4 linked regions of the Homo sapiens genome follow. Each later gene encodes a partner of the first gene's protein in a complex. Each region holds a gene or a part of one and is shown on either strand. Other genes may lie near its edges. The genes, in order: MED4, MED12, MED21 and MED31. A codon is read from its position in the direction of its gene.

The links.
Region 2: MED4 (region 1) and MED12 share a complex: the UniProt entries of both Homo sapiens proteins name them as parts of the mediator complex.
Region 3: MED4 (region 1) and MED21 share a complex: the UniProt entries of both Homo sapiens proteins name them as parts of the mediator complex.
Region 4: the proteins of MED4 (region 1) and MED31 are in contact, whole or in part, in a cryo-EM structure (PDB 8TRH), measured with the Homo sapiens proteins. Residues at the interface, in NP_054885.1 of Homo sapiens: Glu147, Tyr151, Arg154, Ile155, Asn159, Ala160, Val161, Cys162, Ala163, Pro164, Trp167, Arg173, Arg174, Pro175, Tyr176, Pro177, Met182, Leu186; in NP_057144.1 of Homo sapiens: Gln19 (codon at 6,137), Glu23 (codon at 6,149), Gln26 (codon at 6,158), Cys27 (codon at 6,161), Ala29 (codon at 6,167), Asn30 (codon at 6,170), Pro31 (codon at 6,173), Ala64 (codon at 6,549), Lys65 (codon at 6,552), Tyr66 (codon at 6,555), Leu67 (codon at 6,558), Lys68, Tyr69, Pro70, Gln71, Asp98, Ile102, Trp105, Gln106, Tyr108, Ser109.

Annotation. Positions count from the first base shown.
Region 1 is NC_000013.11:48,092,098-48,099,282, forward strand, and holds the start of MED4 (mediator of RNA polymerase II transcription subunit 4), read right to left. Parts: upstream 3,008-7,185; 5' UTR 2,982-3,007; coding exon 2,857-2,981; intron 1-2,856. UniProt on the Homo sapiens protein: Component of the Mediator complex, a coactivator involved in the regulated transcription of nearly all RNA polymerase II-dependent genes.
Region 2 is NC_000023.11:71,113,871-71,121,600, reverse strand, and holds the start of MED12 (mediator of RNA polymerase II transcription subunit 12), read right to left. Parts: upstream 3,006-7,730; 5' UTR 2,847-3,005; coding exon 2,748-2,846; intron 2,229-2,747; coding exon 2,124-2,228; intron 1,916-2,123; coding exon 1,724-1,915; intron 1,588-1,723; coding exon 1,431-1,587; intron 631-1,430; coding exon 449-630; intron 275-448; coding exon 164-274; intron 40-163; coding exon 1-39. UniProt on the Homo sapiens protein: Component of the Mediator complex, a coactivator involved in the regulated transcription of nearly all RNA polymerase II-dependent genes.
Region 3 is NC_000012.12:27,017,609-27,025,562, forward strand, and holds the start of MED21 (mediator of RNA polymerase II transcription subunit 21), read left to right. Parts: upstream 1-4,949; 5' UTR 4,950-4,971; coding exon 4,972-5,013; exon of another isoform or gene 5,014-5,263; intron 5,264-7,954. UniProt on the Homo sapiens protein: Component of the Mediator complex, a coactivator involved in the regulated transcription of nearly all RNA polymerase II-dependent genes.
Region 4 is NC_000017.11:6,648,602-6,656,543, reverse strand, and holds the start of MED31 (mediator of RNA polymerase II transcription subunit 31), read left to right. Parts: upstream 1-4,938; 5' UTR 4,939-5,015; coding exon 5,016-5,043; intron 5,044-6,110; coding exon 6,111-6,188; intron 6,189-6,465; coding exon 6,466-6,562; intron 6,563-7,942. Other genes in the region: uncharacterized protein C17orf100, read right to left, coding at 4,274-4,630. UniProt on the Homo sapiens protein: Component of the Mediator complex, a coactivator involved in the regulated transcription of nearly all RNA polymerase II-dependent genes.

The sequences.
Region 1 (7,185 bases):
TCATTCTTTTTTTATTTTTTATTTTTTGAGATGGAGTTTTGCTCTTGTTGCCCAGGCTGGAGTGCAATGGCGCGATCTCGGCTCACCCCAACCTCCACCTCCCGGGTTCAAAGAATTCTCCTGCCTCAGCCTCCCTAGCAGCTGGGATTACAGGCATGTGCCACCACGCCCGGCTAATTTTGTATTTTTTTTTTAGTACAGATGGGGTTTCTCCCTGTTGGTCAGGCTGGTCTCGAAATCCCGACCACAGGTGATCCGCCGGCCTCGGCCTCCCAAAGTGCTGGGATTACAGGCATGAGCCACTGCGCCCGGCCTAGTGTTTCATTCTAAATGCAATGAGAAGCCACTGGGTTATTTTAAACAGGGAAATGGCATGACCTGATTTATACTTTTAAAAACTGTTGAGTGATCTGGTAAATAGACTGTAAGAGGGCCAGAACAGGAAGTAAGTTAGGTGGTTTCTGTAGTGTTCCAGGCAAAAAATGACACTGGTTTTGACGAGGTTATAGCCTCCAGGACTTAGTAATCGTGATGGGAGAAACATGGACAGATTTCAGATATCTTTTGGAGGTAGAGCTAACAGGACTTGCTGATGGATCAACAGCGTATGAAAACAGCATGTTAAGTAAACTTTTTAGTGTACGCCACAAGTGAGACATAGACGGTTGAGAACCTCTGGTCTAAGTAAAAGCTGGTTTCAGGTGGGGCAGGAGTGGTGCTGACTAGAGTGGGGCTATGGTAGGAGATGTGGGATAAGCCTTCCTCTGTTCTTGCAAATCTGGGAGCGTGAGTCCACAGAAGGCTTTACAAGGCTTGCCTTAGGCGCCGGAGTAGAGGGGAGGTAGAAGTCTCTAAGACTTAGTCATGTTCTGTAACAGTCCAGGACAAAATAGAAACCCCTGTCCTCCCCAACTGCGAAAAAGAGGCCAAAGGAAGCCCCCACACTCAAGAGCCCTGTCCTGCTAAAAAGAAGGTGCATTCCCAGCATACTGCATTAGAATCCAGACACAATTCCCCATAGAAATAAAATTTCCATAGCGGTTAGAGCCTACATTATTAGCAGTAATACACTTTTCAGGTAAACAGAATTAACAGGCTGGTGTGGAAAACTCAAGATTCCTATCAACATGGTTCTGTGGAACAATGAGTTTTGAGTTACAAATGGGTTAAAAAAAACGTTTAGCCTACAACCTGTGTTTCAACTTTTTAAGACTATCTCCTTGCATTACATTTTATAAACTAATAAATATCCCGAAAGGCTATATAATCAGGTTAATAGAAAAAAAAAGATCCTAAGTTATAAATCCACTATTTTTAAAGAGGCTAAATCTAAAAATATGTAAGGTATATTCGTGATTTTTCTTCTCATTTTCATAAATGCAAGCCAGACACAAATTACATTCAGAGACTGACAAACTTCACAGATCACAGAATCAGTACACATAACTACCTCTGAGTGAACACATGAGACCTTTCTGGAAGCCAGTCACACCACCAGAGCAGCTTCATTCTGTGAAGAAGTTCCAATGATCCGCCCGCCTTGGCCTCCCAAAGTGCTCGGATTATAGGCGTGAGCCACCACACCCGGCCCTAATACAGTTTATTTTAAACAGTGGATCAAACACATAAGCCATTTAATTTCTGCTGTCTAGGTGTTTTCGGGTTTTCTTCCATCATTAAATATTGTGCTGACCTGGTAACTTGGTAGCAATACGATGGCAAGGACTAAATTTACACCAAAAATAAAGTGCTGATTATATCACGTATATTTTAAAATACAACAGGTAAGATTTATTCTAAAGCTGTCAAAGAATGTTGGCTATAGAAAAAGTGACATTTGAGCTGGATTCTGAAGGATATATGAATCATTCACCAAATCGGGAGTAGACTGGGAATGGCACTGAAGATGTGGAAGTCTGACTAAAGAATTTGAACTTTACCTCACTGGACAACGCAAACCTACCAATGAGGTAGCTTTTATATAATTTTTCTGCAGAAAAGTGATATAAGATGCCTTTTAAAACTGGTATCGGCCAATATAAAAGGATAAAGTGCAGAAGCATGAGGCAATTAAAACTGTTTGGGAGGCTACATTTAAGAAGGAGTTATGAACAGCGGGGTTGGAACGAGAGGGCAAATTGGAGCGACACTTTAGGAGGTAGAACCAAGATAATTTACCATCCAAGTCAATGGGAGGGAGTCAAGGAAGGCTTCAACTTGAAAGACTTATCATGAAAGGTGACAGAATATGAAGAACGACATCTAATTTCATCTCCTATCTCTGACACACAACCATCCTAAACAACTTGCAACTCCACCAAGCCAGGCTTTTTGCACTTGCTGTTCCATCTATCTGTGCTGCCTAGTGAGTTTGGCGAGCTCATGCTTCCCAAGCAGCACTTTCTTCAGAGGGCCTGCCCTGACTACAACCAAAAAAGGTGCCTAGTCCCTGTGCTCCAGTACCCCGCAGCGCAGCCCTCTAATAAAAACAGGCCCCAAGCCAGTTTACACATCTGTCTCTCTCTCGACAGCTGGCATCCAGTCTACCCTTCACTACCGTCTCCCCAATGCTGAGCCCCCAAGGAGCGTTCCATAAATGTTAAGTGGCTGGCCGCGGACGAAGAGGCTCAGACCGCGCGAGTTCTTATCATTACTAAAATTCCCTCTAACGGGAAAAACCGCCGCCCAGAGTGCCAGAGGGCTGCGGACCCCACGTCCATGACCCTCATGCACCCGAAACTCCCGAGCTGGCCCTCCCCGCCGAACCCCGAGAACGAGCACAAACGCAGGGCCGGCCGGCTCCGGGGTCAGTCCCCCGGCCCAGCTCCAGCCCGGCTCTCAGGCTCGCCGCATTACCTAGACAGGACCTCCAAGTCCTCAAGCGCAGACAGCAGCCGCTCTCGTGTGCTGTTACCACCCGCCACTCCCAAACCGCCTCCCAGCCGCTCCTTCTCCTTCTCACCACTCGAAGACGCAGCCATTTTCCCCAGAGTCCCGCCACCGGCGCACGCGCAGAGCGAGCTGACGCAGGTGCGTGGCGAGAAGGCGGGCTCGGAAGGCGGAAGAGTCACCCAGGAGAGGAAAAAGAGGCCTGGCGAGAGCGCCCCCTTTGGGCCTGGAGGCGCACTGCGGACACCGGCGCCATCTGTTGGGCCGGCGAGGGCTTTCTGGTCCAAACCCTGGGAGCGACAGCTGAACTGAGAACAGTGGGGGCAACGCAGTCTGATTCTCCTGGGCCTAATGGTTTTTTTTCTTTCTTTCTTTCTTTTTTTTTTTTTGAGACGAGTCTCGCTCTGTTGCCCAGACTGGAGTGCATCGCCGCGGATGTCTTGGCTCACTGCAAGTTCCGCCTCCTGGGTTCACGCCATTTTTCCTGCCTCAGCCTCCCGAGTAGCTGGGACTACAGGCGACCGCCACCACGCCCGGCTAATTTTTTGTATTTTTAGTAGAGACGGGGTTTCACCTTGTTAGCCAGGATGGTCTCAATCTCCTGACCTCGTGATCCGCCTGCCTCAGCCTCCCAAAGTGGTGGAATTACAGGCGTGAGCCACCGCACCCGGCCCACCTTAACCATTTTTAAGTGGATAGTTCAGTGGCATTAAATACATTCATACTGTTGAGCAACTATCCATCTCCAAAACCTTTTATCTTGTAAAACAAACTCTGTACTCACTAAATGCTAACTCCTTATCCCTCCCTTCTCCAGGCCCTGGCAACCACCATTCTACTTTCCATTGCTGTAAGTTTGGCTACTCTAGGTACCTCATATAAGCAGAATCATACAGTATTTGTCTTTTTGTGTCTGGCTTATGTCACTCAGCATTATGTCCTCCAGGTTCATCCATGATGTAGCATGTGCTGGAATATCTTTCCTTTTTAAGACTAATATTCCATTGTATGCATATGGCACCTTTTGTTCATCCATTCATCTGACGATGGACAGTTAGGTTACTTCCACATTGCTATAATCCATCTTTATAGCCATACATCTTCCAACAAAATGTTTTGCTCATTACTCAGGTTAATTATTGAACTGAAGGAACCAATACAGTACATAAGTAGTAGTTAATTAACATAGTTTAAGTCATTGATGTACCACACATTCCAAACCAGAACTGGTTGTCAAAGGCAAAAATACGTCTTAGCCTACTTTTCCTAGGGATAACAATGTAGTAGGGATCACTCTCTACCAGAAAAAAGCAAAGTTACAAGCCTATTGGGAATGAGGATTCCATATTGCTATTATAAAAGATGGTCTGGGACTGCCTCACTCCCATGAGGTAGTAGTACCTGTAGTCCTTTCATTTCAGGGTCTCATCCTCTACTCTGTCTTTTTGGAGGTGCTAAACCTGACTCCTGGGCACCCAGAGTTGACAAGTCTTTTAGAAATTCATGTTAAATAAATTCACTCATAGCAACTGCTGCGTAATCTAGAATGCTGATTTACTCACTTACGATGAAAAGTAATAGTGCCAAACATATCTTTTTCCCATAGACAAAACTATATGAGAAGCCATATTATCACAGGATGTTGCTTGTTAAACTTGGATCAGAACAAACAAGGATAGATTAAAAATTAATGACACAATCATGAGGCTTTGTGTCTCCACAGTGTAGGGATATTTGTGTTCAAGAGATTGGATTATTTGTGTTCATAGGTCAGGGTACCTTTTCCTCTAGACAGTGCAAGAGATCCTTGTCACCTTTTGTTTTCTGACCGTTCCCTGCATCTGCTGTTGGCTAACCCTTTTTTGTTAATGCAGTCAATTCTCAGGCAATGGGCTAAAGTAGATTGAAGCTTTGTTCATTACACTTGCATTCTAAACATGCCTCTCAGTACTCTAGTCAATCATTTCTTATGTTAAGTTTCCAGGGTGCCAAACTTCTGCGGTATGTGTTGGTTTTGTTTACTCAACTCTCACGGGTCATATTGAGCCATGACTCTGGTAGGAGGAGAGAGAACATTATATTAGTGTAAACATAAAAATTCTAGAAGGATTCTAATTAGTTAAAAATGACCAATTATAGTCCTACTTTGCAGACACTGAGGATCAGTGTGTGGAGCATGTATGTGTATTGTGAACTCCTGACCTCCTCAGATTTATTGCAAATTCATATGCATATTAAACAGTTTCTATAGACTGATAAGTAATAGCATCTTTCACAGATATACTGTCTTGCAAATTGTACAAATCCAGGCGTGATAAACAAATATGAATTATTTTATATAGTATTACTGAATTCATGGTAATTTGGAGTTAGGTACATATTTTCTCAATCTGTAGATTCAAAAAGGACACTACTTTCTCATGAAATTTTATTGACATGGTGGGCAGTGTTCTAAGCACTTCAAAAATATTAACTTGTTTAATTTTCCTAACACTCCTATGAGGTAAGTACTGTTACTATCCCTATGTTACAGATAATGAAACTGAGGGGCAGAAATGTTAAGACACATGCCGGGGTCATATAGTAAATGGCAAAGCTGGAATCTGAACCCAGAGTCTGGCTCCAGGGTCTGTGCTCTTTACCACTGGTTATCCCAGCTCTCTGTAAAGAAAGAAGGATATTCAGGTACTAAAAGGACTGGGAACCTCTGACCTAAAATATGAGAGGACTTCAAAAAGTTCATGGAAAAATGGAATTAAAAGATAATAATTTAAAATATAAACTTTATTTCTCAACATAAGCTCCATCTAGTTCAAGACACTTTTGTAAATGACGATACCAGCCATTTAGTTCATCCCTAAATAAATGAGGGCCCTTGGAATTTAACCGTGTCAATGCTGTCTTTTTTACTTTTTTCTTTTCTTTTTTTTTTTGCCACAGGGTCTCACTCTCTGTCACTCAGGCTGGAGGGCAGTGGTGCAACCACAGCTCACTGCAACCTTGACCTCCCAGGCTCAAGCAATCCTCCCAATACATTATTAACTGAAGAAAAATGAGTGCCCTTTACAGATTTTATTTATTTATTTAGTTTTGAGACAGAGTCTTGCTCTGTTGTCTTGCTCAAGCTGGAGTGCAGTGGCACAATCTTGGCTCACTGCAACCTCCACCTCCCGGGTTCAAGTGATTCTCCTGTCTCAGCCTCCCGAGTAGCTGGGATTACAGGCATGTGCCACCATGCCTAGCTAATTTTTGTATTTTTAGTAGAGATGGGGTTTTGCCATGATGGCCAGGCTGGTCTCAAACTCCTGACCTCAAGTGATCCACCCCCCTCGGCCTCCCAAAGTGCTGGGACTACAGGCATGAGACACTGAGCCTGGCCCAGATTTTTTTAAGATTAGGAAACAAAAAGAAGTCAGATCAGGACTGTAAGGTGGATGTTCAATGATTTCCCATTGAAACATTTCCAAAATTGTCCTTGTTTGATGAGAGGAATGAGCAGGAGTATTGTTGTGGTGGAGAAGGACTCTCCGGTGAAGCTTTCTCGGGTGTTTTTCTGCTAAAGCTTTTGCTAACTTTCTCAAAACACTCTCATAATAAGCCATTGTTATCATTCTTTGGCTTTCCAGAAAGTCACCAGACAAAATGCCTTGAGCATCCCAAAAACTGTTGCCATGCTGTTTGATCTTGACTGGTCTGCTTTTGCTTTGACTGGACCACTTCCACCTCTTGATAGCCATTGCTTCGATTTTGCTTTATCATCAGGATTGTGCTGGTAAAGCCATTTTTCATCTCCTGTTACAGCTCTTCAAAGAAGTGCCTCAGGATCTTGATCTCACTTGTTTAAAATTTCCATTGAATGCCCTGCTCTTGTCTGCAGGTGATTTGGGCATAACAGTTTTGGCATCCATTGATTGGAAAGTTTGCTCAACTTTAGTTTTTGAGTCAGAATTGTATAGGCTGAACAAATTGAGATGTCTATAGTGTTGTCTATTAATTGCTTGTCCTCTGCAATTAGGGCACAAACAAGATAAATATTTTCCTTGCAAATTGATGTGGATGGTCTGCTGCTGCAGGCTTTATCTTCAACATCATCTCATCCCTTCTTCAAATGAGTTTTCTATTTGTAAAACTGCTGATTTCTTTAGGGCATTGTCCTCATAAACTTTTCATAAAGCATCAAGATTTCACCATTCTTCCACACAAGCTTCACCATCAATTTGATATTCTTGCTTCAATTTTAGTAGAATTCATATTGTTCTGATAGGGGCTCTTGTCAAACTGATGTCTTATCCTTCT
Region 2 (7,730 bases), on another chromosome or scaffold:
GCGGGACAGGTATGCAGACTGAACAAATTCCCCAGAGTACTGTGAAGACACGACCATCAGAGCCCCTAGTTCTCTCCAGGGGACCCTGCTCTAACATTTTATTCTTCCTCAAATTCTTCTTAGACTCCCCCTGCCCCACCAGTACCAAAATTCCAAGCCTTACTCGGAGAAGCAGAGGCAGCAGCAGTTTAAGCAATTCATCCTCTCCAGGGCGGATCTTCTCAAAACACTCAAGCACCCAGGTCAGGAACTCATGTCTGTCCAGCATTCCATCCTATGGGTACCAGGGGAGGGAAGAGGGGACTATTAGAGATGAAGCAGATAAAGTAAATGAAAAGATGAAGAGAACCACAACTGGGGCAAGGTGGCAGGCAGATTCTGTTCTCTACTGGCAGAGTACAAGTTCAAGCTCAACCCAATGCCCCACACAGCATGCCCTACTCTCTACCTGAAACATGAACATGGCCAGCTTCTCGGTGTAATCCCACTGCCGGATTGCCACCTCTACATCATGGGGCAAGGGCCCTATCGTGGAACCACAGCCCCCACTTCCTGCAGGCCCTGGCCGGTAGTATTCAGCCATCTTCTGTAACTGCTCCCATAAGTACTTGGTGATGATCTGAGTCCATTCTGGAGGAAAGAGGGAAAAAGGGCTATTTGATACTATCCTTCTGCTTAGAATATCCTTCTACTGGCTGGGTGCGGTGGCTCATGCCTGTAATCCCAGCACTTTGGGAGGCTGAGGCAGGTGGATCACGAGGTCAGGAGTTCGAGACCAGCCTGGCCAAGATGGTGAAACCCCGTCTCTAGAAAAATACAAAAATTAGCCGGGCGCAGTGGTGGGCGCCTGTAATCCCAGCTACTCGGGAGGCTGAGACAGGAGAATCACTTTAACCCGGGAGGTGGAGGTTGCAGTAAGCCAAGATCCTGCCACTGCACTCTAGCCTGGGTGACAGAGTCTTGCTCTGTCTCAAAAAAAAAAAAATCCTTCTACTTAGAATACCTTACCCCCACCCCTAATCACCATATTTGTAAATTCAGTTCATCCTTTTAGTCTCTAGTCAAATCCCACCTTCCTAAAGCCTTTCCGGGTACCCCCATAAGAAAGTAATCTTTTGTCCACTCAAAGAACCTTCTGCTCCTAGCTTGACATTCACCACTTTCTATATTTAATTATGTTATTTGTACATATACCTTAGCAGCCCTGTTAGACTACTAGTATCCTAGGGGCAGAGATTATGCACCGGACATCTTTGTAGCCCAGTATATGCGCACAGTAGACACTCAAATTTCTCAGTGTTTACTGATCAAACAAATGCAAGAAACAAGCAGAAACAAGGAATCTAGATTAAGAAGGAGGATGGTTCCAAGGGTGTCTCTATCACTCCTTGAAGCCATCAGCAGTACACCTGGTGTTAGGAGTTACTCACCCATGAAAGGGTCAACATGTCTCTTCTTAACCTTGGTCTCAGAGATTGCTGCATAGTAGGCACAGGTCATCTTAATGAGCCAGGCAGCCCGCATCACAGGCACTGTGTATTTGGCTAAGTACCCAAACACCTCTTCCTTCTTACTGAAAATGGGGACCTGGATGGACATTGCAAATAGTGAGGTCTCTATTATCCCCATGAGCTGACACCCATGTAGCTTAATATGGGAATAGGAGGGTACTTGGTACCCCATGCTCCCTCCTTGGCCTGAAGGACAGGAAACAGTACCTTACCTTTTTGGCTAGTTGCGTGAGTGGCTTGGTGCCAGCCAAGTCAGTGAACCAAGTGTTAATGGCACTCTGGGATCGTGCAGTCACCAGCCAGAAGTTATCCTTCTGGTTCACTTGGGGCTTCCTGCGACCAGTGTCAGGAAGGGTATTACAACGTAATTTCTCTGCAATAATGCTGCTGAAGTTGGAACTGATCTGAGGGAAGAAAAGTGTACCTCAGGGTGGGAAGAAGGGGCAGACAGGTGGTCCTGCCTTTTGCTGGGCAAATGCCAATGAGATAGTATTAGGTCATGAAGGCAAACTCAGCCACTTAGGTTGTCCCTATAAGTCTTCCCAACCCAGGGCCTTTGCTCCTTCTTAGATTCTTCCAGCCTTTTCCTTCAGCCTGGCAGAGTTGTCTCACCTTGGCAGGATTGAAGCTGACGTTCTTGGCACTGCCATGCTCATCCCCAGAGACAGCAGGCTGGTTATTGAAACCTTGTTTTACATTCAAGGCCGTCAGTTCATCCTGAGGCAGGAAAGCGGCGTTTAGTTGTTTTTTCCTTAGGGGAAGGGGGAAGGGGTGGGAGAGTAGGGCAGGAGAAAAGAAGGAACAAGGTGAAAGGGCAGGAGGAGGGTTCCGTGTAGAACAGATCGTTACTTAAAGCTGGGCCCTTACGTTCACTTGGACCCCACCCTCACTCCCATGGTCACTAGGATTCCCAGCCACCCAGCGCGCCCTCAAACATCACTCTTCTCTTGCGAACAGCCGAGCAGCCGTACCCCACCAAGCTGTCTCAGACAACTTTCTGAGGTGTGTGTGGAGGAGGGCGCCTCTGGTGCGGCCCCTACACCACCCCCTATTCATACCTTGGAACCCCCCACCGCCCCCCGTCCTGCCCTCCCACGCCAGCCCACTTTACTCTTCCCCCTTTCGGGACTTTTGCTCTCACCGAACCGCCCCGCCCCCCATTCCCAGCCGTCAGTGCCTCCTCCTAGGCTGACCGCGTGCCCCCGGCCCCTCCAGAGCCCCGATTTTCGAACGCACCTCCTTCTGTTTGGGGTCCTGAGGGTAAACATCGGGAGGCCCCAGCCGCGGCCGCTTCAGGGGCCGGTGTTCGTAGCTCAAGATCCCGAAGGCCGCCATCTTGCCCAGCCCGTAGCGCCGGAGGCACCAGCAGGGCCAGGCTGACTGGGGGAACGGGAAGGGGGAGAGGGAGCCGAAAAGGGGGGCGGTGGTTGAGAGGACGGCGGCCGAGAGACAACAAGGGGGCACGTTAGAAACTCTCGACCATTGCCGGAAACTACCGAGGGAAGCCGAGGTACGCCGGGAACCATCGGACAATACCGACTGCAGAGGAGGTGGGGCCTGGCCCGGTGGGGGCGGAGCTCTGTGCCCCGGGAGTTTTTCGGCGGTGGCGGCAGCAAGTCGATTTCACTCAGCAAAAATCTATGAAACGTTCCGGAGGCGCAGAATGAGCTGGGGATGCAAACCAGGGAAGAAGGAGGCCTCTGTGGTGCTGAGTTCTGACTGGACTTCGGTTCCCATAGCCTAGCTCGGTTTTGGCCTAGAAAAGTCTTCAATAATATTTGCATTGGTTAGGAACTCCGTCTATTACAGATCAGTTCGTTTCTTAGTTCCGGCATCTGAAAAATAGGTGCGCTAACACCTCCTTCAAGGGGCTATTGTGAACATTAGAAACTATGTATGCATGAGAAAGAACCTATTAAACCCTGAAAGGCTGGCTCTAATCCCTCAAGGTCTACCATCGAGTTGTCTAACCTTTTCTTGTTTGTTTTTCTGCCCAAGGGTACCGCATACTAACGTTTTTGATTCACAAACCCTTAAAGGTGCTGATGAAAGCTATGGACCTTCTTCCCAGAAATAATAATAATAATAATAATAATATGCATATATTGACATGCAAAATGTTGCTTTAGATTCTTAGATCCCCTGAAGTTCATCCATGTATCCCCTAAGGGTCCATGAACTCCAGGTTAAGAACCCTTGGTCTAGCTAAAGAGGCACCTATTGTGTCAGATGCTTTTCAGACACTATCTCCTTTAATCTGCTCACAGCCTCATGAGTTAGGGATTATTATTGGCTCGATTTTGCGGATGGAGGAAGCTGGTTTTCAAAGTGTGAAAATTCACTTATCCAATATTATACAGCTACTGAGTAACAGAGCTGGCACTAAGATTCTGAATTCCAGAGCCAATATCCTATTGTCGTATTGCTATTTGTTTATTTTGAGGCAGGTTCTCCCTCTGTCGCCTAGGCTGGAGTGCAGTGGCGCTATCACGGCTCACTGCAGCATCAACCTTCTGGACTCCAGCGATCCTCCCGCCTCAGCCTCCCAGTAGCCTGGACTACAGGCGTGCGCCACTGTGCCGGCCTTGTATTGCCTTTTAGAGAAAAGACAGCCAGTGTGCTGTAACAAAAGTAACAAATAACAATAAACAAAAATAACACCAGTAACAAAAATAACAAAATGCTATTGAATCACAATGGAAAGAAGAAGTAATTCAAGGCGGGGAGTGGTGGCTCACGTCCGTAATCCCAGCACTTTGGGAGGCCAAGGCAGGGAATCACCTGAGGTCAGGAGTTCAAGACCAGCCTGGCCAACGTGGTGAAATCCCATCTCTACTAAAAATACAAAAATTAGCTTGTGTGGTGGCAGGCGCCTGTAATGCCAGCTGCTCAGGAGGCTGAGGTAACATTTGAACTAACTCTGAAGGATATTTTTATTTTATTTTATTTTTTATTTTATTTATTGTTTTGAGACGGAGTCTCACTCTTGTTGCCCAGGCTGGAGTGCAGTGGCGTGATCTCGGTTCACTGCAACCTCCGCCTCCCAGGTTCAAGTGATTCTCTTGCCTCAGCCTCCCCAGTAGCTGGGATTACAGGCTTGCGCCATCATGCCTAGCTAATTTCTGTATTTTTAGTAGAGACGGGGTTTCTCCATGTTGGCCAGGCTGGTGTCAAACTCGTGACCTCAAGTGATCCGCCCACCTCGGCCTCCCAAAGTGCTGGGATTACAGGCGTGAGCCACCACGCTCAGCCTGAACGATATTTTATTTATTTATTTATTTATTTATTTATTTATTTATTTATTTTGAGACTGAGTTTCGCTCTTGTTGCCCAGGCTGGAGTGCAATGGCGCAATCTCGGCTTACTGCAACCTCTGCCTCCCTGGTTCAAGCGATTCTCCTGCCTCAGCCTCCCGAGTAGCTGGGATTACAGGCATGCACCACCATGCCCAGCTAAATATTTTTTTGTTGTTGTATTTTTAGTAGAGACGGGGTTTCTCTATGTTGGTCAGGCTGGTCTCGAACTCCCGACCTCAGGTGATCCACCTGCCTCCACCTCTCAAAGTGTTGGGATTACAGGCGTGAGCCACCAACCTGAAGGATATTTTTAAAAAGATAATTTTTCTTTTCTTTCTTTTTTTTTCTTTTTTTTTTTTTTTTGACAAGGTCTCACTCAGTGGCCCAGGCTAGACTGCAGTGGTGCAATCTCACTTCACTGCAACCTCTACCTCCTGGGCTCAAGCAAACCTCCCACCTCAGCCTCCCAAGTATCTAGGATCACAGGCGCTGGCCACCACACCCGGTTAATTTTTGCTTTTTTTTTTTTTTTTTTTTTTTGGTGGAGACAGGGTTTTGCTATGTTGCCCAGGCTGGACTTAAACTCCTGGTCTCTAGCGATCCACCCACCTCAGCCTCTGAAAGTGCTGGGATTACAGGCATGAGCCACAGCACCCAGCATAAAAGAATTTTTTAGAGCAGTTTTAGATTCACAGCAAAATTGAGAGGAAGGTATGGAGAATTCCCATATACTGTCTGCCCTCACACATAGATAAACTCCCCCATTGACATCCCCCACCAGAGTGGGCCAGGCATGGTGGCTCATGCCTGTAATCCCACCACTTTGGGAGGCCGAGATGGGTGGATTGCTTGAGCCCAGGAGTTCTAGACCAGCCTGGGCAACATGGTAGAACCTCTATCTCTCCAAAAGCAAAATAAAACATTAGCAGGGTTTAGGGGCGGGCGCCTGTAGTCCCAGCTACTCTGGAGGCCGAGGGGAGAGAATCACTCGATCTCAGGAGGTGGACGCTGCAGTAAGCCATGATGACCCCACTGCACTTCAGCCTGGGCAACAGAGTGAAACTCTGTCTCAAAACAAAACAAAACAAAACAAAACAACAACAACAACAACAACAACAACAACAAACCCACCAGAATGGTATATTCGTTAGAGTTGATGGACCTACCTTGAACATCATTACCCAAAGTTCATGGTTTACGTTAAAGTTCACTCTTGATGTTATTTTATACAGTCTGTGAGTTTGGACAAAGAATAACATGTGTCCACCATTGTAGTATCTTACAGAATATTTTCACTGACCTAAAAACTTTTTCTGCTCCACCTATTCATCCTTCCCTCTCCGACAACCCCTGGCAACCGTTGATCTTTTTACTGTCTCCATAGTTTCGCCCTTTCCAGAATGTCATATAGTTGGAATCCTATAGTAGGTGGCCTTTTCTGCATGGCTTCTTTCACTTAGTCATATGTATTTAAGTTTTCTCCCATGTCTCTTCACGGCCTTAATAGCTCATTTCTTTTTGCACCGAATAATATTTCACTTTCAGGATGTACCACAGTTTATCCATAAACCTACTGAAAGACACCTTCGTTGCTTCCAAGTTTGGGCAATTATGAATGAAACTGCTATAAACATCCGTCTGCAGGTTTTTATGTGAACACAAGTCTTCCACTCCTTTGTTTTTTTTTTTTTTTTTTTTTTTTTTGAGACGAAGTTTCGCTCTGTCGCCCAGGCTGGAGTGCAGTGGCGCGATCTCGACTCACTGCAAGCTCCACCTCCCGGGTTCACGCCATTCTCCTGCCTCAGCCTCCTGTGTAGCTGGGACTACAGGCACGCGCCACCATGCCCGGCTAATTTTTGTATTTTTAGTAGAGACGGGGTTTCACCGTGTTAGCCAGGATGGTCTCGATCTCCTGACCTCGTGATCCGCCCGTCTCAGCCTCCCAAAGTGCTGGGATTACAGGCGTGAGCCACCGCGCCCGGCCTCCACTCCTTTGTTAATACCAAGGAACATGATTGCTGAAAGAGTATGTTTAGTTTTATAGGAAACTGCCAAACCGTCTTCCCCAGTGGCTGTACCGTACCATTTTTGCATTTCCCCCAGCAACAAGTGAGAGTTGTTCCTGTTGCTCCACATCCTTGCCAGCATTTGGTGTAGTCCGTGTTCCGGATTTGGGCAATTTTTTTTTTTTTTTTTGAGACAGGGTCTCACTCTGTCACCCAGACTGGAGTGCAGTGGTGCAATCTCAGCTCACTGCAACCTCCGCCTCCCAGGCTCAAGCAGTTCTCCTGCCTTAGCCTCTCAAGTAGCTGGGATTACAGGAATGCGCCACTATTGCCTGGCTAATTTTTGTATTTTTTAGTAGAGACGGGGTTTCACCATGTAGGCCAGGCTGGTCTTGAACTCCTGACCTCAAATGATCCACTCACCTTGGCCTTCCAAAGTGCTGGGATTACAGGCATGAGCCACCATGCCCGGCCTCTTTTTTTTTTTTTTTTTTTTTTAAACAAGAGATGGGATCTTGCTGTGTTGCCCAGGCTGGTCTCCAACTCCTGGGCTCAAGCAACCCACTCGCCTCAGCCTCCCAAAGTGCTGGGATTTCAGGCAAGGTGTGAGCCACCTTGCCCAGCCCATTTTGGCTATTCTAATAGGCATGTAGCCCTGAAGGATTTATTTATTTTATTTATTTTATTTTTTAGGCAGAGTCTTGCTCTGTCACTCTGGCTGGAGTGCAGTGTGCGATCTCAGTTCACTGCAACCTCTGCCTCCTGGGTTCAAGTGATTCTTGTGCCTCAGCCACCTGAGTAGCTGGGACTACAGGTGAGTGCTACCAAACGTGGCTAATTTTTGTATTTTTGTAGAGATGGGGTTTTGCCTTCTGAAGGATTTTAGCCTACAGAAAGTTAGGAAGAGGCTAATTCCA
Region 3 (7,954 bases), on another chromosome or scaffold:
TATCTGTGTTTTACTGTCTGCTCTTTCTGGCTGCTTATAGTTAGAAGAGAAGTGATTTCCTTGAAATGCATGAGGCTAGAAAGGGAGCTGGAACTTAAAGTGGCGGTGTTTGTCCGAGATGACGGTGCTCCTGGTCTGTCACCAGACTCAAGCAATCCTGCCACCTCAGCCTCCAGACTAACTGGGACTACTACAGGCTCACACCACTGTGCCTGCCTTGTTTTCTTTGTAGTATGCATTCCTGGTTATGTACATAGAAAAAAAGGTTGAAAAATATATGCCAAAATGTTTAAAATAGTTATCTTTAGGTGGTTAAATTAAGAATGATTTCCTTTGCACATTTCTGTGTAAAAGTTCTACATTGAAGTGTATCATTTTTAAATAAGAAATTATGATTTTGTAAAAGATACATATAATTTTAAAGGTTTTCTTATAAAAGCATTCAAGATATAAGTCCACCTTCCTGAGTATGACACATAAATGCTTTTTGTGATGCAACTCCTGCTCACCTCCCTAGGTTCTTGCTGCAACTAAAATCAGACCTCTACATGCTGGCCACATTGAATTAATTTCAATTTCCTGAACTGAGCCTATTCTCTCTCCTCCATACCTTTGCATCGCAGTTCCCCAGGCCTGCAGTTGCCTGTGCATGCATGACAGTTGATGACAAATGTGTCAGCAATCAGAACAGGGCCTCATTACCTTGGCTTCTAAGTACAGTATTGTGACAGCTTGGGAGGATGATTGGCTGGGGTTCCATGCTCATGTCAGAGTTCCATTGGAGAGCTGAGAAGCAAACAAGCTTAGCAGCTTTGCAGATTAGTTCATTTTTCCTATGTATTGAAAGGAAATGCAGAAACTGAAAGATTCCCAAATCCAAGATATGCATCATTAGAGGCTTAAAGTCTGTTTAGGCCAGGCGCAGTGGCTCATACCTGTAATCCCAGTACTTTAGCAGACCAAGGCAGGAGGATCTCTGGAGACCAGGAGTTCAAGATCAGCCCAGGCAACATAGTGAGATCCCCATTCTTACACACACACATACACACACACACACACACAACCAGAAAAAAAAATTAGCTGGGCATGGTGGGGCACATCTGTAGTCCTAGATACACAGGTGGCTGAGGCTGGAGAATTGTTCGAGCCTAGGAGTTTGAGTTTGCAGCGAGCCATGATTATGCCACTGTACTCCAGCCTGGGTGACAGAGCAAGACCCTGTATCTAATAAAACAAAAGTCTGTTAAAATTTAGAAGAGGAAGGAAGGGCAGGAGGGAGAGAAGGAGGAAGGGAAAAAACTTACCCTAGCTTTTTAAATAAAACCTAAAATACCTTAAATGGAGCTGGGAGTGGGGATCCAGGGAAAAGGCAGGATTGAACCTCTGTGAAATTTGCCCATTCATTCTTTCCCACTCTAATCTCACCTTCATCCTGTATTTTTTAATTCTTATGCTCTTTTGTGGGTAGTAATTTACATTCTTTGTTCATTAAGTTAAATTCAGTAAATGCTTGTTTAGTAGCTATTATATGGAAATTATTATGCTAGGAAACTCATTCATTTGGTTGATAAATATGTGCCAGGCTAAAAGTTAGGTGCTAGGTACTGGAAATATGGAAACAGAATATGTTTTCTGCCTGCAAGTAGCCCATGGACTGGTGGGTGAATTAGCGTGATGTACAAATAATTACAGCACAGTATGCTAAGTGCAATAACAGAAGTGTAAGGAACAATTGTGTTAAAGATTGGGAGCATTTAACTTTCAGAATTCAGGAAAGGCTTTTATAAAGAGATGTTTAAAATAAGATTTTGTTCACTAGTATAGTGGCAAGTAAAAAAAATAATAATAGGCCGGGCACAGTGGCTGACGCCTGTAATTCTAGCACTTTGGGAGGCCAAGGCGGGTGGATCACCTGAGGTCAGGAGTTCAAGACCAGCCTGGCCAACATAGCAAAACCCCGTCTCTACACAAATACAAAAAACTTACCCAGGTGTGGTGGCGGGCACCTGTAATCCCAGCTACTCTGGAGGCTGAGGTAGGAGAATCACTAGAACCCTGGGGGCAGAGGTTGCAGTGAGCTGAGATCGTGCCACTGCATTCCAGCCTGGGTAACAGAGTGAGATTCTGTCTCAAATAAATAAATAAATAATAAAATAAGGTTTGAGTACTGTGTGGACAATCACCAAGGGAGCAAAGTGGAGATGTGGATGGAAGTGTAGGCATTTCATACAAGGAAGAAATAATTATAGGTGTTTTTATATGGTGTGCATTTTTGTAAAACAGCAGAACATGTTTAGGGAATTTCAAAGAGTGTGGTATAGAAAAATGCTTATTTATAGTTATTCATCCCGGCACTAAGAACAGTTTAGATATTTAATAAATTGCAACTGTGAGTATTAAAGTTATTTAAAAATTGCTAAAGGTGTTTTTCTTAAAAAATAGTTGCTACAGTCATAAAAACCAAAGCATTTACAAGATTGACTGAGTGGCTCACTGCTGAAGCTGTAAAGGGTATGCGAGGGTTCACTATACTGTCTACTTTTCTATATCTTTGAAACTTTTAATAATATAAAGTTTCAAAGAAAGTACTCACCAAAATTGTGTGTTTAAAATATGAGATCTGTAATACTGGGTTCCTGCTCCTAAAACCATATAATCCAGTTGGCGATGCAACAGAAGCAAATGGAAAAGCATATGAGAAAGTGTCCAAATCATGAAAGGAAGAAAGGAGAGGTCCCTATGGACTCTAGCAATTCATAAAATTTATATGAGAAGTGTACAGCTTAAAAAGGTAGGGTAAGGATTAAATAGCAGGAAAGAAATTGCTTTGGGAAAGGTAAAGAATGAGGAAAGAGCTAGACCAGTGGTTCTCAATTGGGGGCAATTTTGCCCCCCAGCAACATTTGGGACTATCTGGAGATACTTTATGTTGGCATAAATGGATTGGGGGGATGCTACCGGCATCTCAGGGGTAAGGGACAGGGATGCTCTAAACATCCTACAGTGCACAGGTCAGCATCCCACAGCAAAGAATAATCTAGCCTGAAAAGTCAAGAGTGCAGCCATTGAGAAATCCTGAGCTAGATGCACAGACTATATTTGGCAGGTGGGTTATTCTTGAAGTCTACAGCTTCAAGAGCTTCCTAAACCCCTTTTCAAATGTAGGCTAAGTTGAGAGTCTGGTCTGGGGAAAGGGTCCACAGCTTTTATCTGATTCTTAAAAAGATCCGTGGCCGAAAGAGGCTGAAGAACCAGGAAAACCAAGGGGTCAGGGACCTTGGCTGAAACAGATTATTTCACTCAGAAAATTATCAGGAGGTGAGGCTGGGTCTGTTTGCTGGAGCCAGATTATAGTAAATCTTGAAAACCAGGCAGAGATAGTTGGACATCAACCTGAGGTCTCTGTGGAGGCACAGAAGACCTATTAGGAAGATAATGGCAGGACAAAAACTGTGTCACAATATGAATGTCTTGAAGTGGCTTCTCTACTTCAACTGCCCAAGTTCCCTTCAATCAGGCTGCAAAACTTAGTATTCTTATGGAGTGGACTAAACTATATCCAATCAGTCACCAATCCATATTAATTTTTTTTCTCAAAAATATATTTTAGTCTTTCTTTCCCCGCTTATCAGGGTCAACACCCTATTCTAGGCCCAGCTCATCTTAATCTTGGACAACTGCAAAACCTTCCTTAGTGAGTCCTTGGCTTATTCATCTTTGCAAATTGAGCACTGGATATACTTCCTGGCATGTGGCAGCCATTCCGTAAGGTACACTCTCAAGTGAGGGTGGGAGGAGAAGGTTGTAGAATCCCCCCAAGTTACAGTGAAAACAAATTACAGAGTGATTTCTCATTAGTCCCATTATGGGGAACATGCCTCATCCACGTTCTTAATGAGGCTCCAGTAAGTCTGTAGACTGTTTGGGGCTGAGGGTGGGGCATTGGTGTGAAGCAGAAGTGGTGCTTCACAGTAAGTGTTGGGATAAATCCAACAAGCTGAGTTCCCCAGGGACTGTGTCTTCCACCTTCCCCGCAGCCACAGGAAGGTAATCACGGATAATCAGCCTGAGAAAGAGGATATGAGAGTTTTTTGAAGTCTACAAACCTGTTATTTGCCGATTCCAAACTCATTTCTTACCAGACTATCCTCAGGCTAAATTTCCTTAAATACCAAGTTTCGATTATCACTTTTCACACTTAAACTCTCAATAAGTCCCAACTCTAAATCTAAATTGTGCAGCTAATTTTTCTTGGCCGAGCACGGTGGCTCACGCCTGTAATCCCAGCACTTTGAGAGGCCGAGGCGGGCGGAGCACGAGGTCGGGAGATCGAGACCATCCTGGCTAACATGGTGAAACCCCGTCTCTACTAAAAGTACAAAAAAAAAAAAAAAATGCCGGGCGTGGTGCGGACGCCTGTAGTCCCAGCTACTCCGGAGGCTGAGGCAGGAGAATGGCGTGAACCCGGGAGGCGGAGCTGGCAGTGAGCCGAGATCGCACCACTGCACTCCAGCCTGGGCGACAGAACGAGACTCCGTCTCAAATAAATAAATAAATAAATAAATAAATAAATAAAAATAAATATATTTACTCTTCAATTTGGTCAATAAATAAACACGAGAGGGTACGAGAAATTACTTAAAAAAAAAAAATCCCCGCAGAATCCAACAATCTCTGAAGCCTTTAACACCTAACAACCCCAAGGGGAGTATTTCGGCTCTTGGACTGTATTTCAAAGCGATTGGACCCCAGACCATTCCCCCAGTTACTCAAAAGATCCAGCCTCTCCTCAGGTGTAGCCCGCTCTAGAAAGGCCGCCTCGGGAGTACCACCCACTCCTGACGGGGCGGGGAGTTCTCTCCGACCCCACCCGTTCCAAGGACGCAGCCCTGTGATTGGCCATGACGCGTGCCAGAGCTGCCCAGTCGCGGAAGAGCAGCTGTTTTGGCGTCTGTTTGCTGCGGTAGGAACATGGCGGATCGGCTCACGCAGCTTCAGGACGCTGTGAATTCGGTGAGGAATTTCATTCGATTAGCCTCTGTCTTTCTCTTTCTTGAGGTAAAGCAAGGGAGGAAAGGGGCCCAAGAGGCAAAACTTGAAAGTGGGGAGCGGACTGAGAGACAGGGCTTCGGCATAAAGCGCTCTCTCGGGAGGCGCCACCGCGAACTCGGAGGTTTGAGGCCGGCTGCCGGGCGGTGCTTGAAGGTGCGGGAGGGAGCAGACTCTTTCGCTTGAGGAGACCGGGAAGATCGTTCTTGTCCGGGTGAGGCCGCCAGGACTTGTGGGCTGCGCGGTCCTGTCGTGTTCCCTGAGGACAGTTTTATTTTCTTGTCAGTGGTGCTTACGGGTTCTCTTTCTTTTGGGGGTTGGGAGGAGAAGCAGGAGCTTTTTTCTTTCCTCATCAATTTTAATCCACCAAGGGAGATCTCATGCTCTGGATGACTGGGTTTTTGTAATGAAATGTCAGCCGAGAGTATTCCTTCACCAGCGCTTTCAGGTTGGTGCGGGAGCGATGCTGAGGTGAGGTGAGAGATTTTCTTTCATCTTAGCTCGTTCCTTTGGGCCCAGAGTATCCTTCCATCTCTTGCCTCTTGGCCATCCCTCAGAATACATCAGTTTGGGGACATCTTTATGATAGGAAATCTTCTAATCCTCGTATGTCTTTCCGCTTATTTGAGTCTTTTTTCTTTTCTTTTTTTTTTTTTTTTTACTTTGGAGACAGTGCCTTTCGCCCAGGCTGGAGTGCAGTGGCGCGATCTCTGCTCACTGCATCCTCCGCCTCCCGGGTTCAAGCGATTCTCCTGTCTGAGCCAAAGTAGCTGGGATTACAGGCGCCCTCCACCACGCCCGGCTAATGTTTGTATTTTTAGTAGAGACGGGGTTTCACCATGTTGTCCAGGCTGGTCTCAAACTCCCGGCCTCAAGCGATCCTCCCGCCTCGGCCTCCCATAGTGCTGGGATTACAGGTGTGAGCCACCGTGCCCGGCCTACAAGTCCTTTTTAATGTCTCCCCCAAATTCTACTCTCTATTAAAGGCCAAGTCTAGTAAGTAGCTCCCCAGCTTTGTTCCTTCTGGTTATTTTTCCTCCACACTATGCCTGAGTGGAAAGTAGAAGCAAAGCCAGAGGATGCGCAGTCATGGGCCCCTAATGAAGGGGTCATGTTCTGAGAAATGCATGGTTTTGGCGATAACTTTTTTTTTTGTTTTAATAAGTAGAAGTACAATGTAAAATAACGATAAAACAGTAATACATAAACCAGTAACAAAGTCATTTAGTATCATTATCAAGTGTCATGGACTGCACATAATTGTATGTGCTATGCTTTCATACACTGGCAGTGTGGTAGGTTGATTTACAGCAGCATCACCACAAGCACTAAGGAACGCATTGCGCTACAGCGTTAGTACTGCTACGATGTCACTAGGCAATAAGAATTTTTCAGCTTTATTATAACCATAGGGGACTGACATAATATGTGCATCCCGTTGACCAAGACGTCAGTGGGTATTCCCATGCGGCAATGGGTGTACTTATTACCATTACGAGTTAGATTGTTTTCTGCTAAATAGTTTTCCATTGATAGTTATGTTTCTCATTGTCTGATTGTGATTTAATGTCCTAGATAAGGGGCTAGAGAGAAAACATGCTGATAGGAAAACCTAAGTACCTGGTTTCCTTGCCAGTTTTTTTTTTCCTCACTGTAAGCTAATAACTTGGCATTTTTCTTAATACATCAGAATTTGTACACTTGAAGAGTGTGAATCTACTTGTGATAAAACTGATCTACCCTGGGTGAATAACACTAGTTTTTAAGCTGAGAGGACCAGCCTCTAAGTGTTGAATTCACCAAGATAAATTCTACCCTGCAGGGACTTGCCTGGGCTGCCAGCCAGCCTTCCTCAGGGAACTACTCCTTTGAGGTTTTACGAAATCAAATTGTAATGATGCTGCTGGATAGAAATCTTATTTTAGGGAAAATTTTGCATATTCATACATGTCTTGTAACTAGAAGGATAATAAGGACAGAGTGAATATGGCCTTAACTCCAGGTTAGGCATAATGATAATTGGATTTTGGAGAAAAGCCTTTAGGATAACTAGTATGAGTGCCTACTGTGTGTAAGCACCATCATGTTTACAAAGAGATACTCCTAAAGGAGGTTAAAAAATGTCAAATACTCAGGAGACATTTAAGTGATGGAAAAACAGTATGTGGTTAGGGAGTTATAATGAATTGAGTATTTTCAGCTTCAGGTTCTGATGTAAATTGGAATATGGAGTGATGTGAACCAAAATAGGGGGAATCTTCTTAGCATTTATCCTAATCAGAATTATTTGTATAACTTTTAACATTTGTTCTACCCTCTGAAAACCGTGAGTGCAGAAGCTATGTCGCATTCACTATGTCTCTGTAGTGTTTATATGCAGTACTTTAGTTATTTTCCATAAATTTTTGTTGACTAAATGGATCTTAAAAGCTTTTGAAGGATGGAAAAGATAGACACTGTGTTGAATATTTTTTTGTGTGTGTTTCCTCTATTACAACAATGCTATAATAGGAGAATGTATCCAATTTAAAAATGAAAAATGCTGCTTGGATTAATAGAGCTAGGATCAGGATCTAGGTTTGTATAGCATCTGAGCACTTATTGCTCCATTACAATTAGCAAAACCTGGGCAAAGCCATTTAGTCATAAGTGACTTTATGACTAGTTAGATAAATATGAAGGAGTAGTGGAAAACGAGTCAGTAGAGTTGACTTAGATTATTGAAAGCTTCAAAACAGCCTGAGTTGGAGATTTATCTTGAAGACAGTGGTGGAGTAAGCTTAAATGTTTTGATCAGGTTAAAATAAATAACCTGGTGAACTGGAAAACAACAAGAAGACTATTGTAATAATTCTGGTGTGAGATAATTGGTTGAACTAAGCAACAGTGATAGAAGGAAAAGAGA
Region 4 (7,942 bases), on another chromosome or scaffold:
CGGCTTCAGAAGGGCTTGGAAGGTCTGCAGCAGAGGTGGCGAGGCCGCTGGAGGTTTGAAATGGCTTTTAAAATAGAGAAACCGGGAGGACCGACGACCGCTCCGGCGACCGCAGTTTCCAGGCACCAGAGCTGTGTGGAATGAGGGGCGCTCAGGAGCATCCCCTTAATTCCAAGGAGATCGAGTAGCGGAAACATTTATTGAGCGTTTACTGTGTGTCACCAACTGCCCACCATAGGGAGGAAAAAAGGGAGGAGGGAGCGCGCCTTTCCACCTTCCGTGCCCCGTCCCCTCACCATGGAGTCGCGGGGCCACCTGCTCCGTGCGCATTTTCTCTCTTTCTGGCTCCCTTTGCCCCGCTTTCTCGGAAGCTCGGAGCAAGGGCGTGGAGTGCGGGGAGCAGGGCTCCGCAGGTTCAAGAGGACGCGGGCGATCGGGGGCGGGACGGATATTGGGCAGGGACGCGGGAGATGCTCAGGGTCTAGAACTGACTGCGCCGGATTCTTGTTTAGAGGGAGGTGAAGAGAGGAAGGAGGCGCGGGTGACACCGGGGGAGGCAGGAGGAGAGGGCTGGGAGGTGGGGAGAGGGGAGGACCTCATCCGGGCATGTTGCTTTGACGTTCCCTGAGACAGACATCCGGATTTGGCGATCTGGGAGAGAGCTAGAGCAGTGATGGGAATTTGGGCTTTCGCGGAAGAAAAAAAGTAACAGGACCGGGTAGAACACCCGGTAGATATGACATGAGATATGACGGGAGGTGGGTCGGGAAATCGAGAGCGTTCTCCTGTCTTGACTCCCCATCCCTTCCCTCTCACCACCCACTCCACCCCAGGTGATAAAGCCTGAAAGGTAGAGATCCAACAGCGCTAGCGGTTGAAACGTTTTTTAAAATAGAGAAAGCGAGAGGACCGACGGCGGCTCCGGTGACTGCTGAGTTTCCAGACAAGGGAGCTCTGTGCAATGAGGGGCGCACAGGAGCATGCCCTCAATTCCAAGAAGATCAGGTAGCCGGAAAATTTATTAAGCGCTTACTGTGTGCCACCTGCGTGTTTTCTGTCCAAATCAGAAAAGGATTTGGACAGAAAACACGCAGGAAGAAGGAATCAACCCCTGGTACAGCAGGCAGGCGAGGTAGGGGTAGGAGTTATGCACGTGTATGCAAGCCTGGATGGCTGGGAAGCCAACCTCCATCTAAAGGCAAGCGCGGACATGCACACACACACACACGCCTCACAAGTTGGATTGCAAGAGAGGGTGAAGTGGGCGAGGAGACCCAGTCAGCCGTGGCATTTGAGGAAGGTACATTTAGGCCACCGAATTCATTCCACCAACTTTGCACACTTGTCTTCCTTGTGCCAGGCTCTGGGACTCATTCCTTTTGAGGGTAAAAGTCTGCCTCCCTGGACTCCTGCCCCTCAGGCGCTCCCACAGCCCGGCACCGCCCCCTCGCCATTCCGGAGCCAGCGCGGGCTAAGCGGGCCTGGCCGGGGATGAGCGGAGCCACCGTCCCCATATTCCTCGGTGCCCCGGGACCGCAAGAGGGAGCCGTGGTTTCCGGAACTCCTCCCGCCCCTCCGGGCTTTTCCTCTGTTAGGCAGGTGGCGATTCGCTGTCTTTGCCTGTTATGGCCGCTGCCGTCGCCCTGGAGACAGGTGAGTAGCGCTCTGAGCCTGGAGTCTTCGCAGATAGAACTCTCCTTGGCCCAGACCTCTTCTCCCGCTTCCCCTGGGCCTCCTTCCAGGCCTCACTCCCGGCAGGATTAGTATTTGGACAGGGAGGAGAGAAGGCTCTTGCAGCGTCTAGAAAGGCTAAGGTACTCTGCAGTTTTCCTAATTTGGTTTGTTCGCACACCTTTGCTATTCAAACACGACCCCACCAGCTTCCCAGCGTGGGCGAGACTAAGGGAGAGGACTTGTGTCTTAAAGCGTGTCCTCCTTGTGTCTTAAAGCGTGTCCTTGATTGGTTTTCTGCTTCTCACATGAGCTTGCATACGTTTGAAATATCGTCGCCAGACCTGTGTATCATTGTGTTACTTGTGATTCTTATATATGCATATGTTCCATCATCTTTTAGGCTCTCTGGAGTCTCTTGTTCAGCTTGCATCCTAAGTTTTTCTTAACTGATTCAGCACGTGCTTTTGCGAAACTTAATCACTGTTAACAATTGTTACAATGCATTATTAAAATAGGGGAAGCCACAGTTATTACAGCCTACCTTAGAGATCACTGTTAAAATTCCTACATAGTGGCCCATGAGTGGTAGGTATTGTGTCTCATTTGTGTTGCTGTTTTCTTTGATGATTTCTCTTTACTTTTAAAGGTAACCCTCTTCCATGACTGTTCCTTAAAGTGGTGCGCTGTCCCAGTAGACCATGCTCTAGCTTTCCAAGCTGCTAGAACTGTCAGTGTTTCTCAGCCTTGGCACTATTGACATTTTGGGACCAGTGATTCTTCATCGTTGGCAGAGGGGAGGGTGTTGACCTGTGCACTGTAGGATGTCAGGTGGCATCCCCGGACTCTACCCGCTAGGTGCCAGTAGCACCTAATGTGCCACCCACCCCCTCCCAACAACTTTTCAACCAAACTAAAATGTCTCTAGAGGTTGCCATATATCCTCTGGGGGACAAAATCACACTTAGTTGAGAACCACTGTCCCACATTCTACACACAGAAGCCAAAAGGATATTTTTTAAATGTAAATGGCATCATGTCGTTCCCCTGTTGGAAACCCTTCAATGTTTTCCTGTTGACCTTAGAATAATCTCAAATTCCTTACTGTGGCTTAGAAGACCTTCTGTGGACTGGCCCCTGCTTGCTTTTAACTCCTCTCTTCCGTTCTGCTTCCATGTCTATATAATTGCTTCTCTCTCACTCCAGCCACACTGGCCTTCTTTCTGTTCCTTGAACATTCAAAGCTGGTTCCCATCCACCCTTTGTATTTGCTGTTCTTCTGCCTAGAATGCACCTGTTCCAGATCACTGTTCATTCACACATATCTCAGATTACATGTTAACTAATCAGCAAGGCCTTCCCTGACCATTTTATCAAAAGAAGCCACTTACTTCCATTCTCTATCACATTACCCATGTATTTCCTTCATAGTGCTAATCACAATAGAAAATTGTCTTGTTTCATCATTGCTTGTCTGCCTTTTCACCAGAGTGTAAGCTCCACTAGAGCTGGGACTTTGCCTTTTTTACTGCTATAGCCCAAGTTCCCAGAATACAGACAGTTCCCAACTTAAGATGGTTTGACTTATGATTTTTCGACTTTACAATGGTACAAAAGTGACATTCAGTAGAAATAGTACTTTAAGTACTCTTACAACCATTCTTTTTCACTTTTAGTACAGTATGCAATAAATTACATGAGATATTCAACATTTTATTATAAAACAGGCTTTCTGTTAGATGATTTTGCTCAACTTTAGGTGTTCTGAGCATGTTTAAGGTAGGCTAGGCTAAGCCATGATGTTTAGTAGGTTAGGGGTATTAAGTGCATTTTCAAATTACCATATTTTCAACTTACAATAGTTTCAACGGGAGGTAACCCCATCGTAAGTGGAGGAACATCTAGTGCCTGGCACAGAGCCGGTTCTCAATAAATATAACTCTTCTCCATCTTCTTCAAACCTCAGGCCAGGTTTCAGTGACCTCCTCTCACTTTCTAAGATTATTTTTGCTTGCTGGTGGGTTTACTGTCATTTTTAACCACATCTAACCTACCTTAAAAAAGTGTATGGATGGGGGTGCCAGGTACAAAGACTTAGCATAAAGAAAACGACCATTTACTTTGAAACATAAACAAAGGCCAATTAATAATTTATGAGTCTGTTCCTTGTCCCTCGAGTTTTTAGCAGGCATGGAATCATTCCACAGGTCATTATTTCAGTTTGGTCTCTGTTCCTAAGGGGTGAAGGTTTTCTGAGGGCTGTGGATCCCAAACTCACCTGGCTCAGAGGCTCAAACAGCCTCTCTTTGTCCATCAACCCGATTTAGACAGCATCCTGGGCCTGAAAACCTTCTGTGCTGGCTTCAAGTGAAAATAGTTCACTGGGTCAAAAGTAGGCTGGTCCAAGACGCAGGACGGTCAGTAAACGTTGGCTGTGTTCAGAAACTGCGGCTTGGCTGTTTCTTACATTGATTTATGGTTTGTTTCCATGAAACCGAAAATGATTGGTCCACCTGGCAGCTGGCTGGCTGGCTGGCAACTGGAGGCCTTTCTGTCCTGGCTGAGGGCCCTGGCCCCTTGGTGGCCTTTGGGAAGCAGCATCTCATCGGGCCGTTTTTTCGTTCTGGCGGGCGGCCGGCTTGGCCCGCGGGGTCGGGCTCTCCGCGCAGTGCAGAGACGTCTCCACCCTCAGGGACGAGGCTCTGACGTGGCGGGAGGTCGTTTCCGTGCGCTGCGAGGAGGATTCCACGTGCCGGGAGGACGCCTCGAGGATGCGAGGGAGCCGCTTCCCCGAGGGGGAGAGGGAGGGCCCCTCGCTGCGGCGCTGGGAGGTCTCCACCCGCCGGGACGACGTCTCCACGCGGTGGGACGAGGTCTCCACGCGGACCGTGGACGTCTCTGTGTAGCGGGTGGTCCCCACCCGGGGCGAAGACTGCTTGGCCCCTCGGGCTGAGGCCATTCTGCCGGCGTGAGGGGGCCAGGGAGGCCTCGGGGCACCCTACAGCCCAATGGTCACCGCAGGCAGAAGAGAGGAAAACTACGGTACTGCCATAGCCGGGAGCGCCACAACACGATGACGTGGAAGCACCATGGTCCTTCGAAGGCTAAAACACTGGACTCCTGCCCCTCAGGCGCTCCCACGGCCCGGGCCCCGCCCCCTCGCTATTTTGGAGCCAGCGCGGGTGGAGCCATCCCAGGGCTGGTCGGGGATGGGCGGAGCCGCCCCGCCCCATATCCCACAGTGCCCCGGGACCGGAAGAGGGAGCCGTGGTTTCCGGAACTTCGCCCGCGTCTCTGGGCTTTTGCTCTGTCAGGCTGGTGGCGTTTTGGTGTCTTCGTTTGTTATGGCCGCTGCTGTCGCTATGGAGACAGGTGAGTAGCTCTCTGATCTTGGAGTCTTCGCAGATGGAACTCTCCTTGACCCAGACCTCTTCCCCGTGGCCTCCTTCCAGGCCTTACTCTTGGCAGGGTTAATATTTGGACAGAGAGGAGAGAAGGCTCTTGTAGCGTCTAGAAAGACTAAGGTACTCTTTGCAGTTTTCCTGATTTGGTTTGTTCGCACATCTTTGCTATTCAGACACCACCCCACCAGCTCCCTGGCGTGGGTGAGACTAAGGGAGAGGACTTGTGTGTTAAACCGTGTCCTCCTTGATTGGTTTTCTGCTTCTCACATGAGCTTGCCTAAGTTTGAAATATCGTCGCCAGACTTGTGTATCATTCTGCTACTGGTGCTTCTTTTTTTTTTTTTTTTTGAGACAGCGTCTGGCTCTGTCGCCCAGGCTGGGGTGCAGTGGCGCGATCTCGGCTCACTGCAAGCTCCGCCTCCTGGGTTCACGCCATTCTCCTGCCTCAGCCTCTCAAGTAGCTGGGACTACAGGAGCCCGCCACCGCTCCCGGCTAATTTTTTTTGTATTTTTAGTAGAGACGGGGTTTCACTGTGTTAGCCAGGATGGTCTCGATCTCCTGACCCTGGTGCTTCTTATATGCATGCGCTGCATGATCTTTTAGGCTCTCCGCAGTCTCTTGCATCCTAAGTTTTTCTTTACTGATTCAGCCCCTAGCGTTTGCGAAACTTAATCACTGTTAACAGTTGTTACAACGCATTATTAAAATAGGGGAAGCCACAGTTATTACAGCCTACCTTAGTGATCACTGTTAAAATTCCTACATAGTGGCCCACGAGTGGTAGGAATTCTCCGTTTGTGTTGCTGTTTTCTTTGATGATTTCTCTTTAACTTTAGAGAAACTTCTAACTTACTCCTTTTAATCAGGGCTCCGCTTTTCTTAGATTTCGAAGGAAGGTTTATCTCCTCCCACTCCTAGTTTAGGAAGACCATCTCAACATTAGTCAGGTTTCTTTATTGCTCTTTCCTTACTACAAATCAGTATTATATACAGTGACCTTTGTTTTCCATGATTTTTGCTGTCTTGTCTCCTAGATGATGCTGGAAATCGACTTCGGTTTCAGTTGGAGTTGGAATTTGTGCAATGTTTAGCCAACCCAAATTACCTTAATTGTAAGTTGTTAAGCACCTCATTAAATTGAGTAGCTATTAATGATTTCTGACAGAAGAGTTGCAGTTCAAAATAGTATCTACTTTTACACATTCTCAGTTGAATGACATTACACTTATGCTGGTATATAGATATAATTGCGTACTGGGACTTGTGTTTTGAATCCAATGTGTGTTGGTGGTGGGGGTGTTATGTAAATAGATCCTTTATATTAGGGGTAACAAATCACAGTTTAAGGATTGGTTTGACCTACAGATTTTTTTTTTTAATGCTTTTCAGTTCTTGCCCAAAGAGGTTACTTCAAAGACAAAGCTTTTGTTAATTATCTTAAATACTTGCTTTACTGGAAAGACCCAGAATATGCCAAGTATCTAAAGTAAGTTTAATTTTTATAATCCTAAGCATGTGTATACTTTATTATATAATAGATTTCTTAGTTTCACATTGGCAAAAATGTATTTGGAATCTCTCCACTTCTTTTTGTTATCACCGTCTTAATACAAGACACCCTCATCTCTAACTTGTAACACTGCAGTAATCTACTCCCTGGTTATCTGTGCTTCCACTTTTACCTTCCTGCCCCCATCTCCACCCCAACCCAAACCAAGCAAAACAGCTTTCTACACAGAAACCAGCTTAATCTTTTAAAAATATAAATCAGAACACTTTACTTTCTTGCTTAGAACCTTTCAATGGCTTTCCATTCCATGCAGAATAAAATCCAGTCTTTTTTCTTGGACTAAAGCCTTATACGATCTGGCCCTGCCTTTTCTGACCTTGTCTTTTACCACCCTTCCCATCTCACCAGGTTTCTGGTCCCTAAGAACTCACAATCTGTAAATGTAGTAGCATAAGCCATGGGCTGAAATTAAAAGAGGGTATCTGTAAGGAAGGTGTTTCTGGGGTTATTTGAAGGAGGTGATCTTACCTGAGTCTTAGAGTTGCTGTCTTTTATTTAAGGCCTCTTATTTGCCAGGAACAGTGCTAAATGCTTCATATGCATTAACTCATTTATATATATATATTTACCATTCAGGTCGTTCAGCAGACACTTTCATGTTAAGGCTTACTAAGTTGCAAGAAACATATTATAACCACAAAGCAATTCCCTTTTAATGGTTAAAAAAAAAAAACAAAAAAAACAAAAAAAACCAACCCACCTTGAACTCACACCCCTGCTTTGTCTTAAGCAGGTAGAAAGCAATAATGAACCTTTAAAAAAAAAAAAAAGTTTGAGAGGAAAATGTTTCAAACTTCTCTCAAAGTCACTTTTCTGTGTCCAATAACAATTGACTCACGAAGCACATACGTCTTATGTTGCCTGCAGGACCGTTTGCACCTTTTCTGGCTTTTTATCCATTTAATAATCCAAAGAACAGACTTTTAAGAAAAGTAGACTTCAACGAATATTGTATGTATGTAGATTTACAGACTCAGTGTTGGAAGCCTTAGCCACCAACAAGTTTAATCTTACCCACAACGTTGCCGAGAGATGGTCATCTACACTCTGGAGGTTTCCATTGAGCCCGTGTTACTCTGTCAGGGACAGCTGATTCGATTGTTAGCCAGATATTAGAAAGTTCTTCCTTATATTGTGATATAATGTACCTCCTTGTAGCCCCAGTCTGTTTGTCCCTGGATGAAGCTAGAACCATTCTATACCCTCTTGAGGACAACAGCCTTCCAGATATTTACATTCAAGAGAGACTGCAAATTAGCCCCTTTTGGGTGTTTTATTCAGTCTGCAGAAGATTTT